2 separate regions of the Homo sapiens genome follow, and region 1 is linked to region 2. Evidence: fine-mapped expression QTL. A gene starts in region 2. The other region holds a variant in brackets. All regions are shown on one strand. Distances are between the middles of the regions. Region 1 has its middle 82 kb from the start of GXYLT1. Region 2 holds the start of GXYLT1 (glucoside xylosyltransferase 1).

The links.
Region 1: its variant is fine-mapped to the expression of GXYLT1 in fibroblasts (GTEx, PIP above 0.99). The same link has a PIP of 0.9 or more in subcutaneous fat.

What each region holds. Positions count from the first base shown.
Region 1 is chr12:42,061,775-42,064,687 of GRCh38, forward strand. No RefSeq gene overlaps it. Among named protein-coding and RNA genes, the nearest start is that of GXYLT1, 82 kb to the right of the region's middle. The variant C/T (reference allele first, on the strand shown) is at 1,206.
Region 2 is chr12:42,143,255-42,146,167 of GRCh38, forward strand. It overlaps GXYLT1 (glucoside xylosyltransferase 1), which reads right to left and starts at 1,620. Exons shown (of 8, transcript NM_173601.2): 1 at 1,172-1,620. The coding sequence starts at 1,392. RefSeq lists silencers at 1,008-1,237, 1,318-1,817 and an enhancer at 1,978-2,047.

The DNA of each region.
Region 1 (2,913 bases), 81 kb before region 2:
AAGAGTTCAAGAATCAGAGTTCCATCAGACATCTCAATAACAATATTACAATTTAGAAGACAATAGAACATATGCCTTCCACATTTAAAGGACAGTTGCTGTCCAAATTAGAGTTCTATACACAGCCAAATTATCCAACATGGGAACTCTAGAACAAACACATTTTTTAGGTGTGCAAGATGGGACACTGATTGTTGCCCTTCAATAGCTTTCTTCTTCTTTCTGTCCTCCTCCTCCTTCTTCTTTTTCTTCTTCTTCTCCTTCTCCTTCTCCTTTGCCTTCTGTAGTAAACATGACAAATTCTATCTGGACCCATGAAGATCCAGAATATGTAAAAATTTTCCAACTTTCATTCTAGCTAGATGTGTCCATGTGACTAAGCTTTGGGCCAAAAGTATGTAAGTAGAAGTAATTGATGGTACTCCCCAAAAGTTTTATTAAAAGCTAAAAGCAGGCCCTTTTCCTTCCATTTTTTTTCTCCATAGCTAAAAAGGAGATGGTAGATGGAACCAGAATGGCATTCTTATACTACTGGTGGAAGCTATTTGTTAGGAATGACCAAGGAGCAGGCTAGAAGGAGATTGAGTCCCTGATAATAACAGAACTTCCAAATCAGCTTTGACTACATTTATGTGAGAGAATAAGCTTCTATCTTCTTTTTTCTCATTTAAAAGAAAATTATCAACTTGATCATATAAGTTTAAAGATGTAACCATCTTACTTTGTTACATCTCCATCAAGATAGTTCAGTATTTAGGTTACAGGTATATGACTGAGAGTTCAATTCTCTTTTGTGATAAGCATGGATTATTCGAGCTATCATTCAATATTCACTTTTCAGATACATGAAGCTTGTTGACTCACATTCAAATTCACATTTGCTACTTTTTAAAATCATTTCTCGGGGCCAGGCATGGTGGGTCATGCCTGTAATCCCAGGACTTTGGGAGGCCTAGGTGGGTGGATCACTTGGGCTCAAGAGTTTGAGACCAGCCTGGGCAACATGGTGAAACCCCATCTCTATCAAAAATACAAAAAGTTAGCTGGGTATGGTGGCACACACCTGTGGTCCCAGCTACTCAGGAGGCTGAGATAGGAGGATTGTTTGAGCCAGGGAGGCAGAGGTTGCAGTGAGCCAAGATCGTACCATTGCACTCCAGCCTGGGTGACAAAGTGAGACCCCCTCTCAAAAAAAAATCATTTCT[C/T]GGAGGAGCCAAGATGGCCGAATAGGAACAGCTTTGGTCTACAGCTCCCAGCGTGAGCGATGCAGAAGACAGGTGATTTCTGCATTTCCAACTGAGGTACTGGGTTCATCTCACTGGGGAGTGGCAGACAGTAGGCACAGGATAGTGAGTGCAGCGCACTGCACGCGAGCCAAAGCAGGGCGAGGCATTGCCTCACCTGGGAAGCGCAAGGGGTCAGGGAATTCCCTTTCCTAGTCAAAGAAAGGGGTGGCAGATGGCACCTGGAATATTGGGTCACTCCCACCCTAATACTGCGCTTTTCCAATGGGCTTAAAAAACGGCACACCAGGAGATTATATCCCTCACCTGGCTCAGAGGGTCCTATGCCCACGGAGTCTGGCTCACTGCTAGCGCAGCAGTCCGAGATCAAACTGTAAGGCAGCAGCGAGGCTGGGGGAGGGGCATCCACCATTGCCAAGTTAGTTGTTTGATTAGGTAAACAAAGTGGCCAGGAAGCTCAAACTGGGTGGAGCCCACCACAGCTCAAGGAGGCCTGCCTGCCTCTGTAGGCTCCACCTCTGGGGGCAGGGCACAGACAAACAAAAAGACAGCAGTAACCTCTGCAGACTTAAATGTCCCTCTCTGACCACTTTGAAGAGAGTAGTGGTTCTCCCAGCATGCAGCTGGAGATCTGAGAATGGGCAGACTGCCTCCTCAAGTGGGTCCCTGACCCCCGAGTAGCCTAACTGGGAGGCACCCCCCAGTAGGGGCGGACTGACACCTTACACGGCCGGGTACTCCTCTGACACAAAACTTCCAGAGGAACCATCAGGCAGCAGCATTTGCGGTTCACCAATATCTGCTGTTCTGCAGCCACCGCTGCTGATACCCAGGCAAACAGGGTCTGGAGTGGACTTCTAGCAAACTCCAACAGACCTGCAGCTGAGGGTCCTGTCTGGTAGAAGGAAAACTAACAAACAGAAAGGACATCCACACCAAAAACCCCTCTGTACGTCACCATCATCAAAGACCAAAGGTAGATAAAACCACAAAGATGGGAAAAAAACAGAGCAGAAAAACAGGAAACTCTAAAAATCAGAGCATCTCTCCTCCTCCAAAGGAACGCAGCTCCTCACCAGCAACAGAACAAAGCTTCGTGGAGAATGACTCTGATGAGTTGAGAGAAGACGGCTTCAGACGATCAAACTACTCCGAACTACAGGAGGAAATTCGAACCAATGGCAAAGAAGTTAAAAGCTTTGAAAAAAAATTAGATGAATGGATAAATAGAATAACCAATGCAGAGAAGTCCTTAAAGGACCTGATGGAGCTGAAAACCAAGGCACAAGAGCTACGTGACGAACGCAGAAGCCTCAGTAACTGATGCGATCAACTGGAAGAAAGGGTATCAGTGATGGAAGATGAAACGAATGAAATGAAGCGAGAAGAGAAGTTTAGAGAAAAAAGAATAAAAAGAAACGAACAAAGCCTCCAAGAAATATGGGACTATGTGAAAAGACCAAATCTACGTCTGATTGGTGTACCTGAAAGTGACAGGGAGAATGGAATCAAGTTGGAAAACACTCTGCAGGATATTATCCAGCAGAACTTCCCCAATCTAGCAAGGCAGGCCAACATTCAAATTCAAGAAATACAGAGAACGCCACAAAGATATTCCTCGAGAAGAGCAACTCCAAGACACAGAATTGTCAGATTCACCAAAGTTGAA
Region 2 (2,913 bases):
GGCCATAAACAGTTTAGCTTCAACCTGTCATTTTTCACGAGCTCATTCAAGTCTTCAGTGACTGCTTTCTCCCAGGACAGACAACTGAGGGTCCTGATGTAGGAATTACCCTGACTGTAATCAAATCTCAGGGTAAAAACATGACAAGTCCGCTTTCCACGCTGCTCCTCTGCCCAAACTTTCCCCTTTCATTCTGGGAATGACCATCGACTCTCAAAATGATGTTAAACAACAGCCCACAACTGATCTATACTCCCTCTTCCGACAAACCCTATACTTCTCTATATCAAAGCAGCATTTGCCAAGTCTTGGTAGGGAGCACTTCAGGTCATTCCCAGAGAGATGCCCATACATAAGGTGGAAGTGTCCATGTTGCAAGGCAGTGCAAACGCTCAGATTTCAAGCATTCATAATGCGTTGACAGAAACATTTTTTTTCTATTTAAATCTCATGTTGATTCCCACTCTGGCAGTGATTACGTCCTAAGTCATTACGTCGCTTTTTAAATACCAATTTGTCAAGAAAGGTAACTCCATCCCATCCAACAACAGACTTGAGCACGCCAAGTATCGCTCATTTTTCTTAATTTGCTCTAAGTTTCTTAATAAACTGAGTGTTTCCAAAAGAAAATTTCACAACCCGCACAAATGCCATTTCCAAATTTAACTAACCATGGCTAATACTTAGAAGTGTAAGCGTTAACACAGGAAAATCAGCATGAGGGACAAAATACACACACATATACACTCACACACACACACACAATCCTTAAACACTGAACTAGGGCGCCAGCCTCATGTTTAAATATCTCAACTTGAACTCCACTGAAACAAGAGGAAATTCTCACTAGCCAGGCAGCAGTAAGGCTTTTGTGGACACCTCTTATTTTCAAAGAACCCTCTTTTTAAAAAGTTGAAAATTAATTTCTAACTGCTTTAAAGGGCGCATGACTGGGTCAAAAGATAAACACAGAAAGTGTAGGACACTCTCAGGCGGGAGCAGCGCAGGTTTAGCCCCGGCCGGAGGGGAAGGAGGGAAATGAGTGAGGGGTCAGAGACAGGAGGAAAGACGCGGGAGACGCGGCACCCACCGGCGAGCAGCCCGGGCTAGGCCGAGCCCGCGCCCAGCGCCCCGCGCCCGCCGCGTCCCCCACACCGGGAACTGCCCGTACCTGTCCGACACGCCGGGATGCGCTGCGGGGCCCGCGACGCCGGCGCCTCTCACGGCGCCGCGTCCGCCGCCCGCGAGCCAGGAAGCCACCGCGGCCTGCGGCTTCCCGCCACCGCCGCCCGTTCCTTCTTCCAGGGACACGGCGAGCTGGCTGAAAGCGTAAAGGAGCGAGCAGAAGCCGCAGGCCACACACAGCACCACGACGCGCAGGTAGCGCCGCATCGCCCCGGCCGCGCTCCTCCTTCGCCGCCGCCGCCGCGCCCGCCCCGACGAACTGGAGCGGAGGGAGGGGCACCGCGCAGCCGCGGGCGCAACAAGTTCCTCACCCGCAGCCGCCGCCGCCGCCTTGCGCCCGCTCCCTTCCTTCCCTCCCCGCCCACCACCTAGGCGAGCGCAGTCGCGGCTCCGGAGCCGAAGGACTACCCGCCCGGAAGCCTGGACACCGCCTCTGCCGCCGCGCGCTCAAGGGTCAGCGGCAGCGACGCAACCCCGCCCCTCCCCCGGGCGGGAGGGCTGGACGCGCCGGCGCAGTTCGCGTGGGAGGGACGCAGGGCTGGCGCGCAGAGGGTGGTGTGAGTGCGCGGAACGCGGCGCGCCTGAGGGCTATAGCTAGCGCAGGCCGACGCGCAGGTGAATGGGAGCCCTGTGGGTCTCGACCGCCGAGAGAGGGGGAGCGAAAGCCTCAGGGCTCTGGAGGCAGTTGACCTAAATTCTAATTATGGTCCTTCCACATGGTAGTTTGTGACATTGGGCAACCTAAATTCTCTGAGCATGTTTCTTCGTCCCTAAAATGGAGCTACTATCCTCATCATGGGGTGGTTGTAAAGATTAAACTGTTTAACGCTCGAAAACCGCCTAACACTTAGAAGACACTTGACTAGGCCAGTTTCCTCTCCATCCTCCCCCAGCCTCTAAGTTTCTGTGATACTATAATGTGCACGAGCCATTTTCACCCCGATAAGCTCATTGCTTCGTGTGTTTGGTATGCGGACCTTACCTCTTGCCTCCCAGCAGACAGTGAGTTCCTGTAAGGCAGGGCTCTTCCCTTTGACCTTTTTGACCTCCCTCACAACTCATTATTTTCATGTGCAAAACAATTAGTATTCTCTCCACAGAGCTTCTTTCTTCCCCAGTTCTTCTCCCTCTTCTTCTGTGTTTCCACTACGTTCATTCATTGACCATTTATAAAGCATCACTTGTGCCAAGCTCTGTGTGAGTACCTAGGGGTATAAAGAGGCCTAAGTGGAGCGTGGGTGGGACAGCGGATACTTGTAAATAAGCGCAACGCAGTGATAACAGACTTAAGATCCAGGCCTGTAAGGGTGTGGGCATACACACAAAGGAACAATCAGTTCTATCTGTGAGTATGGTCAAGAGAGACTTCATAGCAAAGGTGGCGCTAGAGTCTTGAGTCGGGTAAGGGAAGTAATTCCAGGCTGAAGGATCAATAAACAGGCTCTTGTGTAGGGAACTGTTGAGAAGTTTGATACCACCAGCTAAGTGAATGCAAGAGAGGGTATGATGAGCGATAAGCGCGTAGAAGGGGCCAGATATTTGAGTGCTTTGTTTAGCACACCAAGGAGTTTGAATTTAATCTGCAAGACATTAGTGAACCATTGAAGGGTTTTTAAATAGGGAAGTAACATGATCACAATTGCATTTTAGAGAGCAGATTCTGGCTGTAGTGTGGAGGCTGAAACAGAGAGAGGAGAGATTGGAGGCAGAAAGCAGCACCAGTGCCAA